2 separate regions of the Homo sapiens genome follow, and region 1 is linked to region 2. A link means that fine-mapping ties the variant in region 2 to the expression of a gene that starts in the linked region. Tissue or cell type: whole blood. Region 2 holds a variant in brackets; the other region holds the start of a gene. All regions are shown on one strand. Distances are between the middles of the regions.

What was found. PIP is the estimated chance that this variant, and not a neighbour inherited with it, causes the effect.
Region 1: PALM2AKAP2 starts here. The variant in region 2 is fine-mapped to the expression of PALM2AKAP2 in whole blood (INTERVAL, PIP above 0.99).

What each region holds. Positions count from the first base shown.
Region 1 is chr9:109,776,160-109,784,027 of GRCh38, reverse strand. It overlaps PALM2AKAP2 (PALM2 and AKAP2 fusion), which reads right to left and starts at 3,830. Exons shown (of 11, transcript NM_007203.5): 1 at 3,495-3,830. The coding sequence starts at 3,539.
Region 2 is chr9:110,144,669-110,152,536 of GRCh38, reverse strand. The region is part of intron 8 of PALM2AKAP2 (PALM2 and AKAP2 fusion); the gene reads right to left. LOC124902244 (a long non-coding RNA gene) reads right to left here and starts at 2,804. Exons shown (of 2, transcript XR_007061727.1): 1 at 1-2,804. RefSeq lists an enhancer at 3,856-4,105. The variant C/T (reference allele first, on the strand shown) is at 3,968.

The DNA of each region.
Region 1 (7,868 bases), 370 kb after region 2:
TTCTTTTGGCAGAAATTAGGATAAGAGTCATCTTTTCTCATTGATTAGTTCCTGGATCCAAATGGAAGATTCCATTAAAGCACTGTAGTTTCTAAGTATTTAATTCAGTTTTGTTGGTGGGGGCGGATATTCCACAGATGTTCATGTGACAAGCATCTTAGGTATCAGGACATCTGTCCTTCAAGAAATTATGTGCAAAAGGTGAAATAAAGGTTTCAGCCTCAGGCAGCTGAAACCTGGGGACACCAACTTTTCAGTGTTGCCAATACCTTCCCAGAGGAGGCAATCTGTAAATACCTACTGAACAAATGGATGAATGAATCCTCAAGTCATATCTCTGCCTCTGTCTAAAGCAGTTAGAGAAAGTGATGCTGGGCAGGGCCCTGACTTTCAGTCAGTTGAAGGAAGGGATTAAAAAAGAGCTGTTCAGACCAAGTATAGTGGCTCATGTCTCTAAACTCAGTGCTTTGGGAGGCAGAGGTGGGAGGATCACATGAGGTCAGGAGTTCCAGACCAGCCTGGGCAACATGGCGAAACCCCATCTCTACAAAAAATTTAAAAATTAGCTGGGCATGGTGGCACATGCCTGTAATCCCAGCTACTGGGGAGGCTGAGGTGGGAGGATGGTTTCAGGATGCAGCGAGCTGTCATGGCAGCACTCCAGCCTGGGTGACAGAGTGAGACTCTGTCTAAAAAAAAAAAAAAGTCATTAATACACATTCCACTTCAGAGATGTTGCTTCTGACCCCCCACAGGACAAGACAGCAATACAGACAAAAGCTAAGGGCTCTGCTCAACACCATCCAATGACAGCTACCTGCCAGGTGCTTCACCTCCATCCTAACTAAACCTTACAACCAGCCCAGGAGGTAGAACTCATGAACCCATTCTACAGATGAAGGAGCTGAGACCCAGACTAAAGACTGCCCAAGGCCCTGCAGACTGGAATCCCAGTCGATTCTCTGCCTCTGAGAGAGAAGCCCAAGTAAGTGAAGATGTGAGGACCTATTGTCTTCTTCCCTCACATCTCCAGAGAGACTTCAGGAGTGCTAGGTTCTGGGGGCAGGCTTGTGATCTCCTCAGGGTCCCCTGAGAACTCCAGGAAAGTGATGAGAGAGTCAGGGTTTGCAGAATTCAGAAGAGTAGGCACTAGACCAAAGCATAGCATAAAACCATTTACCGATGTGGCCATAAGTCCCCCCACCCAACTCCCTCTGTCTCTTAATTGGCTCTCTCTCTCACACACACATACACACACACACACACACACACACACACACACAAACAAACACACGCTGTTAGCAAATCTGTCCTGACAACATCATACAGTCATCCCTCAGTATCCTCAGAGAATTGGTTTCAGGACCCCCTTGGATACCAAAATCAAAGGATGCTCAAGTCCCTATAAAATAGCATGGTATTTGCATATAACCTACTCACATCCTCCCACATACATTAATCATTTTCAGATTATTTATAATACCTAATACACTGTAAATGCGACGTAAACAGTTGATTATACTGTATTATTTAGGGAATGGTGACAAGAAAAAGTCTGTACATGTTCAGTACAGACTCAGCTATCTATTATTTTTTCCAATAGTTTCAATCCAAGATTGACTGAAGGCGTGGATATGGAACCCATGAATAGGGAGGGCAGACTGTATTAGGTGCACATTCATGAGAATAATCAACAGCTCCCCAGATACACAGGACAAACTCAATTCTTCAATAACTGAAGAGGCACAAGTGAGTATTTGTGTGTATTCTTATATGCTCAAGAGAATTCCCAAAGATTTGCCTAGATCTTTCTTGGAAAATCGACTTGGCCTCTGCTGGGATTACTCAACCGCACTTGGAAAAGGGTACCCCAGTGTTAGCAGCTACTGGCTCCATGTTTGGAAAGCAAGTCCTTTCATGGAGTTCAGCTGTTCCTCAGGCATCCAGTAAAGCTGGTTGTGCAAAGGCAGAAAATGTGACAACTGTTGGAAGCCTTCAGCAGCAGCCAATGGGAACAGCCACTGCATCAACAGTTAAAGCAGCCTATTATCCAGTTCACACAAAACACCCACCAGCTACATGGCACCATTAACTCAATATCACCATTCTTATCAAGTTCATGACACACTGGCCATGCTGCCTTGCCACCAACTTTAGAAACCACAAATAACTTCACAAACCATCAAAATACACATGCACAGGGGGAAAGAGAAAGAAGAAAAAAACAACCTTTCTGAGTTCAGAGCACCACGTTCAAAGATTACCTAATAGGCAAACCATGGCATTTCAATATTGCCAGCAAACATCTCTCTCACTTCAGTGGTGAAGTCTCCAAGACATTTCAGATTTGAGGCGTTTGAGAAAGAGGGTCTCAGAGCCTTGGAGACCATGTCAAATGCTTCTAAAAAAGGAAGGGTCTGTGTGCATTTTCCCAATGAAGAATCTGTCCAAAAAGGTTTTGGAAAACGCTTTAATATACTTTGGTTCCAAAACATTACACACTATTTCTCCAACAAATTTATATGTGTTTCCAGAGAACTTCCGAACTGAAAAACACAAATGTATTTAGGTGGAAGAATGTCTGGAGATTCTTTTATGCCAATATGTTAACGGACCTTCTTTTTTAATTGTTACTATTTCATACGGCAGCAGTAATCATTCCCTCATCCTCGAAGGAAATATATAATCCAGCTGTGGTGGCTCCAGTAAAAATACCACATCTGTGGATCATTGGCAACACTGTGTTAAGATTGCTCAAATCTAGGCAGTCTCAGAGAGTTCTTTTTTAAACCCAAGATGCACATGGGTACACTTTTCTGAAAGTGCCTACGAACTTTGCCAAAACTGACTACTCCTTTGTAGGCTGAAAATAGGTTTTCAGATACTCCACACCATAAGAAGGAGGCTCTCATGGAATATTATAACCAGGACCCAGTTGTATGAAGTCCCCAGACCTCCAGGGTGGTGGCTTGTGCCAGTGCCCTTGTCAATATCAAACAGAGAAGGGAAAACTAACATTCCCGGTTTCTGGGAGGAGGTTCTACCGCGTGGCTGGCTGAGTCGCTGACTCCTGGTTTTCCACTTAACAGGAGGACAGCTTCCGCAGAGAGGATGGCAGCCACCGTTCAGGTCACCCTTCTCTTGGTTCTCCAGGCTATGAAGCCAACGTATGCCTGAGCATTCGGTCATAATATTCCTGGAGTCGTCCCCCCACCCCAAGCCTCTGTTTAGTCCTTCCCCAAAGCCCAGCAGCAAGCATCTTTTTTTAAGCCAATCTTCCACATTCAAATCCTCAGTCCAAAGCGCGCCCTTGGGGGTCTCCATCTATAGACATAGAAAAGAAAAGGCAGCCTAGCTGAGCCCTGACAGAGTTTTAGCCCCTGGAACATATGACCTGCGGCTACTGTGCTGGCATGCCGCTTGCCCCGAAACCCTCGGGGGCCCCCTTCCACCCCAGACAATAGAGCAAGAAAATAAAATGAAAGTGGACTTACTGCTATGGCTTGCAGCCTTTCCTTGTGCAATTCCGCCTCTGCCATCCTGGAGAAGGGCACACAGGCAGGGGAAAGAGGAAAGAAAAAACACACGCTGTAGTCACCCAAGGAAACTGATGGGCACCCCGGGGGGCTTTGCTAGAACCCGGGAGAACGCCCAGGGACGGCTGGGGATCCGCTCCAGGGGCGGCGGGCAGAGCTGTGCGCACGGCGGGCTCGCCCGGGCTCAGCCTCTGGCCCCCGCCCTCCCGGCCGCCTGGCTGCGCCCCAGCGCCGCCGCTCACTGCATCTCCCGGTCGCCGCCGCCGCCGGCCGCGCCAGCCGAGGACGTGGGACGCCGGCAGCCGCCGGGAGGGCGCGCTAGCCCGGCGCTAGTTCTCCGCCCTGACGTCTCGGTGCCTCGCTCCGCCCCTGGAGTGTGATGGACCCGAGGCCGCGGTCCAAGGCGGCTCCGAGCGATCGCCGCCGCGGGTCTCCAAGGCGCAGACGGAGGGCGCGCGAGCCAGTGGGCACCTGGGGCGCGGGCGCACGGCGAGCCGCTGGGGCGCACGGCTGGCGTGGCGCGCCCGCGTGGACACGCGCTTGCTGGGGCGGAGGCAGAGCGCAGTGGCGCCTCCACCGGGCAGATGCCAGTGGAGAGGGGCGTCTGACCGAATGTGGGACCCGAGCACGTGCTGTTACGTGGGGGCTGGGGCCACCGAGTGTTCAGGGCACCTTCTGGCTCAAGCCAGACGCTTGAGCTCCACGTGGGGACATTTACAATTTGGGAAGGGCTGCCTTGCCCAAGTGGCCCACATGCTTAAGATGACCAAGTTCTCAATATCAAGTCGGCCGAGGGTAGGGTATATCTCCAGAGAGGCCACCCTTCTGGTGAGGCGATATGTGGCCTTAAAAGAAGCCGAGAGTTTTTAGTCCTGGGTGCTAGACTAGATTTCACAATGTGTTAGCTGTGAAATCTCAGGCAACTCGCTTAATCACTCTGAACCTCAGTTTCCTCATCTGAAAAAATGGAGGATCACATAGGTGTCATTAGAGACGAATGAGAGACAGTATGTAAAGGTGCTTTGTAAAGGGCATCACAGACATCTGCTCTTATTATCCTGTGACATTCTGGATTGAAATCCTTTCAGGGTCTTCTGTTCATTGCATCTGAAAGGAAAAGTAGGATCTACTCACTAAAATATTTCACCTATTCTTTACTAAAACAGGATACCATGTGGTACTAATGTGAGTCTTTTGTGACAGGTCCTGGACTGGATGTAAGAAGTGGATCAGGCCCAGTCCAAAAGGAGATCAATGCCAAAAGCAAAAAAAAATGCCTCTTCACATTGAGGCAGGACCTGCTAGAATTCCCAACATTCATATGCAAACGTTTCTTCATCAAATGAAATAAACACTGAAATAACTAATATGGCCTCTTTAGAGCCATAGGATTTAAAGGCATGTTAAAAGATATACACATCAGGCCAGATGCGGTGGCTCACACCTGTAATCCCAGCACTTTGGGAGGCCAAGGCGGGTGGATCACCTAAGGTCAGGAGTTCGAGACCAGCCTGGCCAACATGGTGAAACCCCTTCTCTACTAAAAATACAAAAAATTAGCCGGGCGTGGTGGCAGGCACCTGTAATCCCAGCTACTTGGGAAGCCGAGGCAGGAGAATCACTGGAACCTGGGAGGCAGAGGTTGCAGTGAGCCGAGATCACATCATTGCACTCCAGCCTGGGCAACAAGAGTGAAACTCTGTCTCAAAAAAAAAAAAAAAAATGCACATCAAATTTTCCCAGATCACCTGTTTCCTGAATAAATGCTTCCATTTCAACTAAATTGCCCTTTCAATTTTCACAGAGGTTCACCTGTCACTGATGAACAATTACTCCTCTGACCAAAGATGGAAGCACTCACCAAAATCGTTTACTGATGGATTGTTTTCCCATCTTTTTCATAACAAGTGTAGGTGGAGCTGATTGTTTAATAAATCCAAGCCAGTGCCAGATTCTACATCCCACTCCAATATATCAGAAACTTCTACTTTCTGGCTAAGCCCATCCTTTTCTTCAAATGCATCCTTTTTTCTTCATTTCCAGCACAAGCCCCAGCAGGACAAGTTATTTAAAGGGGTTTGCTCACAAATAAACAAAGCTGTTATTGCTTCAGCAGAGTGATTGTAGAGAATACTAAGATGAGGAAAATGAGACCAGAGAGGTTGAAAGACTCAGCTACAGTTATAGAGCTGGGATTTAAACTCAGATCACACTCACCAGAGCCCATGCTCTTAACCATTAAGCACCAGGCTTGGCCAATGATATGGAGATAGAAGCAGGCCCCAGGAATAAACAATTGAACCAGAAATGGTCCTTCTACTCCCAGCTATACAGATATTTAAAAGGTATGATTGAGCACAACAGTGTGAATGTACTTACTGTCATCAAACCATATGCTTAAAAGTGGTTGAAATGGTAAATTTTAAGTTTTGTATTTTTAACCGCAATAAATTTTTAAAAGGAGTGATGGAATGGGGAGATGGAGAAGGAAAAGGGCCTGGGCACCCTTTGGAAGTGATCAGTTGGAAATATCTGAACTCTGAATAGAAGAATCGGGGTTGGGGACACACATCCAAGTGTCATCTACTTTGCGGTTACAGCTAAAGAAATGAGAACAGCCAGGATGAGAAAACAGAGCAAGAAGAGGAGAGAGCCCAGCAAAGAAGACTGATAAAGTATCATCCGAGAAGTAGAAGGAAAAATTCAAAGGGATTTGCACCAAAAGCCACAAAGAAGGAAAGAGGTTTTCAACAGGGTCATATGCTTCTGAAAGGTCATGGGGGATGCAGATGAAGAAGAGACCATTGGAGGGCTGTCAGTAAGCCATGAGTGACTTGTGTCCAGAAGATGAGCTTGGAAGCACTTACAAGAGGTGAGGAATGACTGCTACCAAGTGAATGTTGAAAATAAAACAAACAAAAATGGGGATGAGCGAGAGATCAGAGAAGCAACCATGAGTACAAACTGCTTCTTTCAGCTCTTCAGATGTGAAAGATGAAGGTGGAGAACAGGAACATAGCCCATGGGAAGCAGGGTCTAGTGGAAAGGGTTTTTAGGTCAGGCAAGACTTGGATGTTTGGGGGTCAAAGCAAATTAGACAACAGGGAAATTAGGCCAAAGATACAGTCAAAAAGGAAGGTGAATATTAGTCAAAGTCTCTAATTAGTCAAGAGGACATTCAGATGAGCATCACATTAGCCAGTTAGCCTTGGGAAGAAGGAATAACGAAGTAGGGAAGGAGGAAGAAATGGATAAAGACAAGAAGAAAGTTTGAGTTCAACTCTCAGGAGAGAGGTTAAGTGAATTTGCATCAGATGGACTGGTTTTCCCAATTGAACAAAGAGTCATTGATTAAGACTGATGGCGTAGGGTTGGGGCTTCAGAAAAATAGAAATCGTTTGTAAAGAAACTGTGAAAGATGAGAAAGACTAAAACATGGTTCCTAATCAGAAATCTGCATCAGAATCTCCTGAAGACCTGTACAGAATTAAATTTCTACAGGGTGATGTGGGAGTTAGGGATGGGTTTAGAACCTTTGTACTAATTGAATTTACTAGGAATAGACTAAAGACTCATGACCAATAGTGTGTACTTCCTAAGTGATTTTTAACTGCCCTGAGACCCACAATAAAAAAAGCTTGTGTTTATTCAGTGTTGCGGATTATCAAAGCAGGTAAGACAAAAAGCCAAAGAAGAGAGGAAATTCAAAATGCTTCTGGCCAGGTAGGAAGTGTAACAGACTTGTTCATATACACATTTTTTTTTCCTCTGGCTGGCCAATTTGTGAACTCCTTCCCATCTTTGGGGATTTCCCATATTAAAAGCCATAGTGAGAGGCAGAGCCACATCCTGTGGTAGAAGCTGGGAGGTATCAGACACTTGTTCCCCAGATCCCCCTGAAGCCATGGTATGGCAGGCAATCTCGGCTCAGTCAGGCATGTGTGCCTGCCAAGAATTTTGGAGACTGAGCATGTTAGAGAATTCCTTCAGGCTATTAGTTCACCTTTGGTTGTACCCATTGCCCAAGCTTCCTTCTTTGGACGTTCCATCTCTCCTGTGAGCTATCTAATACAATTTCATTTCATTCTTTTTCTGCTCCTATCAGCCAGAATCTATTTCTGTTGCTTGGGACCAAGAACCCTAGGTGAAACAGGAAGGCACATGAAATGACTGCCTGATGGTTGGCCAAGGAGCAGAGGGAAAATCTTTTTTCCTCTTCCAGCACTTCTTTCAACTTTCTAAATTTTAGTATTTTAAAATCTTTGAACCCATTACAAACACAGGCATTTAAAACCCAAACTATGCTATTTATTTAATAAACATATTGTATAA
Region 2 (7,868 bases):
AGGCCCCTTGAAGTCCCTTGGCCAAGAGGACATGCCCCATTAGACTCCCCAAACCATGATGGTTATCTTTGGTGCTTCTTTTTCACTGATCCAGTGTGCATCTCACCCAGAACTTCCCCAGTAACCCCAGGTCCAGCTTTGCTTACTCCCTCAAACTTTGCTCTGCTATTGGTTTATTCACCTGTAATGATTCAATAGCTTGTGATGCCTGAAATCTGCCCCATTTTCAATGAGAACATCCTGCCATCCAGTTCCTCACCTGCACTGAACACTCTATAGAACACTTTTTTTTCTTTCATTTTTTTGAAATGGAGTCTTGCTCTGTTGCCCAGGCTGGAGTGCAGTGATCTGGGTTCATTGCAACCTCTGCCTCCCAGGTTCAAGCGATTCTCCTGCCTCAGCCTCCTGAGTAGCTGGGATTACAGGCACCCACCACTATGCCTGGCTAATTTTTGTATTTTTACTAGAGACAGGGTTTTACCATGTTGGCCAGGCTGGTCTCGAACTCCTGACCTCAAGTGATCAGTCTGTCTCAGCCACCCAAAGTGCTGGGATTACAGGCATGAGCCACTGTGCCCGGCCAGAACGGCTCTCTTGAAGGACATCGGTCACTATCCTTAAACAACAACATGAACACACAGTGCCATGTAGACCTCAGGGCAGGTCCGTATTGGTCTTGGCTGATGGCCAGCCCTGACATTTACAGAGCAGGGAACAGGTATAATGTGACCTCTATAAGGAACGTAAGGAACCACTACAACAATGTTAGACTGAAATTCCGAGTGGAGGATAGGAAACGTTTAAGTTTATTTCATAAACGTGATCATATTCAAACTATTCCATCTGGAGTAATTTTAGACTTAAGCCTTTGAAGGAGTTTGAGGGTAAGTGGCTTCACTTGGTTGACTCCAAAGATGTGTTTCTAACATTGTGTCCTGTGACCTTAGCTTTGTAGGATAGTTACTTGATGCCTCAAAGAAAAAAATCTTTGGTCAAATTAAGCTTGGGAAACTCTGGGTTAAAGAAAACAAGGAGGGAGAGAGGGATTTGTTTACCAGAGGACTTCTGGTTTTAGTGCTAATATGATTGTGAAGCTCTAATTCAGGAATGGGAGTGCAGCATTTCTTAAGTTTAGTTAACCAGAAAACCTCACTTCATAGAATCTATTAAGTGCCTCAAGAAAAAAAGCCAGGTGCAGAGGCTCATGCCTGTAATCCCAGCACTTCAGGAGGCTGAGGTCAGAGGATCACTTGAGCTCAGGAGTTTGAGACCAGCCTGGTTAACATAGTGAGACCTCATTTTAAAAGTAAGTAAATGAATACAGAAGGGGAAAAAAATTTTAAAGTAAGTAAATGAATACAGAAGGGGAAAAAAGAAGAAAAACAGTTTAGGAAATACTGTTGTCTAATGTACAGTAGTTAACCAGCTTCCAGGGAACTTTTCTGGCCCAAGTTCATTTAATAAGTAAGTATGGGCACACAGCTCATGTACAAGAACGTTCAGCACTGTGTTTTTTTTAACTACACCAAGATATCTTCCTATTGAAGAATGGTTAAGTTAGCTATGGCTCATTTAGGCAATGAAGTATTAGTTAGCCATTATAAATGATGTTTTAGACTCTCAAACTTAGAGGAATGGTTAAGGTCATGAGAAAATATTCAAACTATATTAAGAGAAAAAGCAGACTGCAGAAGTAGATATATTGCAGGAGTTCAAGAGTGCAGGCGGGAGAGCCAGACTGCCTGGGTTCAAATCCTAGTTCACCACTTCTTAACTGTGTGAAAGAAAGCAAAAGTGCATAGCACATGGCAGACACTCAATCAGCATAAGATGAACACTATATGTTGCCTCCTGTGGTGGGCAGAACAATGGCCTCACCAACAATGTCCAAGTCCTAATCCCCAAAACCTGTAATACGTTGCTTTAGAGGTAAAAAGAACTTTGCAGTTGTGATTAAGTTTAGGTACTTGAGATGGGAAAGCTATCCTGAAATATCCAGTTGGGTCTGATGTAATTGTAGGAGGGAACTAGGAGGGTCAGCGAGAGAGAGAGAGAGATCTGAAGATGCTGCACTGCTGGCCTTGAAGATGGAGGAAGGGGCCATGAGCCAAGGAATGTAGGCAGCATACAGAACGAAAGAGGGAAGAAAGTGAACTCTTCCCCAGAGCCACTAGAAGGAACACTACCCACTGACACCTTGATTTTAGCCCAGTCTTAGGTTTGTTTGAGCTGCCATAAAATACCATAGACTGGATGGTTTGAACAACACGCACTTATTTTCTCACAACTTTAGAGTCTGGAAGTCCAAGATCGAGGTGCCAGAATGGTCGGTTTCTGCTGAAGGCTCTCTCCCTGGATTGCAGACAGCTGCCCTCTTGCTGTGTCCACACATGGTGGGGAGAGAAGCTGTCTGATATCTCTTCTTACAAGGGCATTGATCCTGTCATGAGGGCTCCACTCTGTGACTTCATGTAAACCTAATTATATCCCAAAGGGCCCACCTCCAAACACCACCACACTGAGGGTTAAGACTTCAGTATACGAATTTGCGGGACAGGGGTCTCAATTGAGACCAGGCTGGTCTCAATCCTCCTTTTGGATTTCAGGTCTAACTTTTAAAAAGCCAAGAATGGGGATTCCAAAAGTTCTGAAAATTATTTTGGTCAGATAGTCATCCATAGCAGATGAATTTCAGACTTCTGCCTTCTAAAGCTGTAAGATAATGCATGTGTATTTTTAAAAATTATTATTATTAGAGACAAGGTCTCACTATGTTGCCCAGGGCTTGAACTCCTGGGCTCAAGAGATTCTCTAGCCTCAGCTTCCCAAAGTGCTGGCATTACAGGCATGAGCCACTGTGCCTGGCTAAATGCATATTTTTTAAGCTACTATATTTGTGGTAATTTGTCATAGCAGCAATAGAAACGAATGCAAGTATCAACCCAATATTGGCTTCCATGAACCTATGGGCATGGAGAAAATCTAGAAAGGTGGTTATTCCTGGGGGAGTAGGATTATGAATCACTTTTGATTCTTTTTACATTTTTTTCTACAATCAGCACAAATTAATTTTAAAATATAAAACAAACCAGAAAAGTTTTCTTGTAAATATTATTAGCCCACGCTGAGAAAAGCAGGTAAACCTGCTTGCTTTAACTTTTATGGACTAGGCAGATCCACAAGCCCTTCCATCATCCCAGGCGGTGCATACCCAGAGGAGCTCAGAAGGAAAAAAACTGTTCATCTCTGCAATGGTGGTGCTCACAAGACTGTAGCATTGCAAGGTAGACTAAGCAGCAAGGAAGCCCAAAGAGTTTCACTCCAAACTAGCTAGTTTAGTCCCATCATGAGTGGGAAAGCATAAATTGGTGTTTCCTGTTTATTTATCATAAATAGTTATACCACTCTGTGGTCCAGAGAAAGCAAGCCATGCCTTGGCTGTGCTTCTGGATTTTCCAGGCCGGATGGATTTCCCTTGGGCATCTGTGGCGAGCCGTGCTGACAGGAGGCAGAGAAAAGAATCTGCAATTCCTCCCACCCAAAGAACCCGAGAAAAGGCTGCATGCACTCAGAATACAGCTATTGTCATCCCTGACTGTCCAAATCTTCCTTCTGGATTTCAGGTCTAACTTTTAAAAAGCCAGGAATGGGGATTCCAAAAGTCCTGAAAATTTTGGTCAGATATTATGATTTGGGTGATTATTACTCTCTCTATGCATGAAGTCTGAGGTCTTAAATCAAAGAGCCTTTGTTTCCACATTTCTCAAAATAAAAGAAAAAGCCTTCACCCACTCGTATTTAAAAACCAAACTGAACCGAACAAAATCACTCACCAGAGGACATGCCTAAGCCAGGGCCTCCTTCAATGACCTCCTTTCTTCACACAGCATTGGGATAAGGTTGCAAACATCTGAAGCGACCCACAAGTCACCAGAAAGAAATGAGCTCAGACTTGCATTTTCAATTT[C/T]GTTTCCTCTCAGTACAAGGGAACATCCTGCTTGTCAGCCCCAGAGTGCACGGACTTGTGCGGTTCCAGCTGTGACCCGCACACCAAGAGCTGGTCCCTTCTTCTTTCATCTCCTCCTTTGAAGGCCCCAGGGGTGGGAGAATGTGATGATATGAATCTTCAGATTATAAACTTAGCTCAGAAATGAGAAATACCACTGCTTGGCAAACAAGTCTGAGAAACTGTCAAATATTATTGCTTAAAGGTAAGTCAAGTTGTTGGATGAGTTGCTGATATTGGGTTTATACCTATGAACACAACTGGAAGATGATGAAAACTCTAGAAGGAAAGAAAGAACTCTGCTCTTACAGGGCAAGCAGAGTTTAAGGCCAAAAAGGAAAAAAGTTAATTAAAACAGTAAGAATGAAAATTATGGTGAATAGTAATTCTCCACCAAGATCCTCTCTTCAAATACATTTCTACTAGCATGGTGGGCTTGGCTGTGTGAAGATTACCTCCCCCCAGAAGGAAAACATTTTTATGGTAATACATGTAATTTTATTCACTCAGTACATTTAATGATGGACTTTTTACTCTTTAGTTTTTCGAATCATAGTGGACTACTGAAAACTCATTATTCCTGACCTCAAGTTTCTAAGAGAAATGTTAATTCTAAGGAAGTAACTGAAAAAAATCCCAGCTAGGAATAGAAAGCAATTTTATCATGTGTGTTCGGTTATTTATTTCAGGCTCACAACTGCTGCAAAAGAGCAACTCACAAATAATTCTACTAAGGCTTTCTGGCCTTTTCTTTCTTTTTAGAGACAGGGTCTTGCTTTGTCACTCAGACTGGAGTTCAGCGGCATGACCATAGCTCACAGCAGCGTTGAACTCAAGCTCAAGCAATCCTCCCACCTCGCCTCCTGAGTAGCTAGGACTAAAGGTACACACCACTAAATTCAGCTATTTTTTCCCCCCGTAGAAACAGGGTCTCACTATATTGCCCAGGTTGGTCTTGAACTTCTGGTCTCAAGCGATCAGCCTCTAAGCTTTTTCTTAAAACAAAAGAGCAACTGTAATGTTGTAATGTTGTAATGACAACAACAATAATAACTCTTACTGGGAGCTTTTTATGTACCAGGCCCTGTCTCAACATTTTTATGAGGTTGGTATAACTTTATTCCTATTTTACTGAGGTTTACAGAGGTGAAGTAAGTTGGTCACAAAGCTAGCAAGTGGTAGTCAGGAATGAAGCTTGAGATATGAATCCAGAGAAGTGACTGTCATATTTTAGCATATATTCTCCCTGACCATCACACATAATTTTTTTTTTTTTTTTTTTGAGACAGAGTCTTGCTTTGTTGCCCAGGTTGGAGTGCAGTAGGGATTGTAGCTCACTACAACCTCCGCCTCCCAGGTTCAGGCGATTCTCCTGCCTCAGCCTCCCGAGTAGCTGGGATTACAGGCATGTGACACCACGCCTGGCTCATTTTTATATTTTTGGTAGACATGGGGTTTCACTGTGTTGACCAGGCTGGTCTCGAACTCCTGACCTCAAGTGATCTGCTGACCTCAGCCTCCCAAAGTGCTGGGATTACAGGCATGAGCCACCTCGCACATAGATTTATACTTGAGTAATGGGAAATAAAAGAGAGACTGGTAATACTTGTGAGTTAGATACACACACATTTTGGGAACCCTTTTAAGTTTACCTTCAAGGCCATGAGAAAGAAAATCTCGTTACAAGAACTACACATATATTCTTTGGTGCTCTAATTGTCTGCCCCATACACTCTCTCCCTGCCCCACCTCACCTCCTAGCCTTCCACCCCATAAGTATGTAGCACACAAAGATCAAATAGATCTGAAATGCCAGTCTCCTTAGGGAAGTACACAGCAAGTAACTATGGCTGGTAAAAGACACAGTCATATTCTGCCCTGAACCCCAGCAGTCACAGAGGACATCCTGCTCCCAAGCCTGGTTTTGATTAGTTCCTATTTCTTACCAAGGAACTTGCAAGAATTAGGTTCTTTGATTCACCTCCTCTCTGTCACCTGAAAACTATGCATCTGTTTTTGTGCATGGCTGAGTCTGATTCCTCATAAGATGCTCCCCTAACTAACTTGCAGCATGGAGAGGCCATGCAGAAGTAGGCAATGAGGACATCACATGGTGGCCCAGCACCAGCAGGAGCCAACCCAGACACACGGATCTATCTGAAGACCCAGCACAATCAGCAGGAACAGCAGAACCTGCTTGTACCAGGGAATTCAGCTGGTGGGGAACGTTCTGCTTTTTCCAAAGTTCTGCTGCCCAGAAGCTGTAACTGCAGGCTTGTCACAGAATAAAGACTTCTGGGCCCATAGGATCTCAAGAGTGAGGCTGGGCTGCACGCGGTGGCTCACGCCTGTAATCCCAAATCCCAGCACTTTGGGAGGCCGAGGCAGGTGGATAACAAGGTCAGGAGATTGAGACCATCCTGGCTAACACGGTGAAACCCCATCTCTACTAAAAATACAAAAAATTAGCTGGACGCGGTGGTGGGCACCTGTAGTCCCAGCTACTCGGGAGGCTGAGGCAGGAGAATGGCGTGAACCTGGGAGGCAGAGCTTGCAGTGAGCCGAGATAGCGCCACTGCACTCCAGACTGGGCGACAGAACGAGACTCCATCTCAAAAAAAAAAAAAAAAAAAAAAAAAGAAGAGTGAGGCTGACAGGCAGGTTTAACCATGGCAGTTGTCTTTTCCAAGCCTTTAAGGGTAATATCTAAAGAGAATGTGGAATTCTATACTTTGAAAAGTCCTGATTTCATTGCACACCTTCACCCCTTGCCAAACATAGCTTCAACATAGTCTTTTCTTACCAATTCCTTTCCAAATGGCATGCATTTTTCAAGAAAACATACTTGCTGGATTTAGATAAAGAGAACACAGGGAAGTCTGGGCCAAGGCAGAAAGATCAATTTTTAAAAGGCAAGGAGAACAGTACGTAGTCATGGTGCTCAATGATCACCAGTCAACTAACTTAGTTGACTTTGACCCTAGTACACCAAAAATGTTCATGTTTAGTTAACAGAATAATGAACACTTATCCCTGCTCATCCTCAAATTTAAAAATTTCTTCCTTGCTTGAGTACCCAGTTCTTTCGAAGTTTTCAAGGAATGAACCTGTTTCTGGAGTAAATGGCAGAGCTTCTTCCTGGGAAATAACTTTCAAAAAGAACTCACAAGAGCAGCTAGGCTAGATGGCTGATGTGGACTAAGTTAGTCCCTTGGCTATCCGCTCAGATCTTTGGACAGCCCGAGTGCTTTTGCCTACTGTAATTTGGGGCATTGGAATTGAGTTCTGAAAGCAGAAAGGAATCATCCTGGGTCACTAGGGAAGCACTGTTTCATGGCCCCTGAGAGTCAAATTTATACACCCAGGCCACCGCAAAAGAAGGATTGCAGAGCCACAGTGGCTCCTAAAAGGAGGATCAAGAAGGACCCAGGAAAATGCAGGGGTTGGGCATAAGATTGGGAAAGGGTAGAGGGAACCTGAGCTACAGGTTGGAGAGAGAAGCTATTACTGTATACCTCATAGAGCAGGCTCAACAAATGGGAAGGAGAAGGTAGGGGAAAGAAGATGGATTTTGGAGACAAATGAGAGCCTGAGTTTGAAACCAGGCTCTCCCATTTTCAAGCTGAGTGACCTTGGGCAACTTAATCTCTCTGGGCTCTAGTAGTAATTCTTTGAAAAAGAATATTATTACAGGTCCACAACTCTTCATATATAATTCCCAAATCCAAAAAACTCTGAAAAGAAAGATTTTTCATAACTTATTTGGCAGCAAAACCTGACATGAGCTGACATGAAGGTCTCCTAGTCTTTACCCACTTAATGTAACTAATTCTTCTTCTCAAGTTTTAGAGTAGAAATTTAA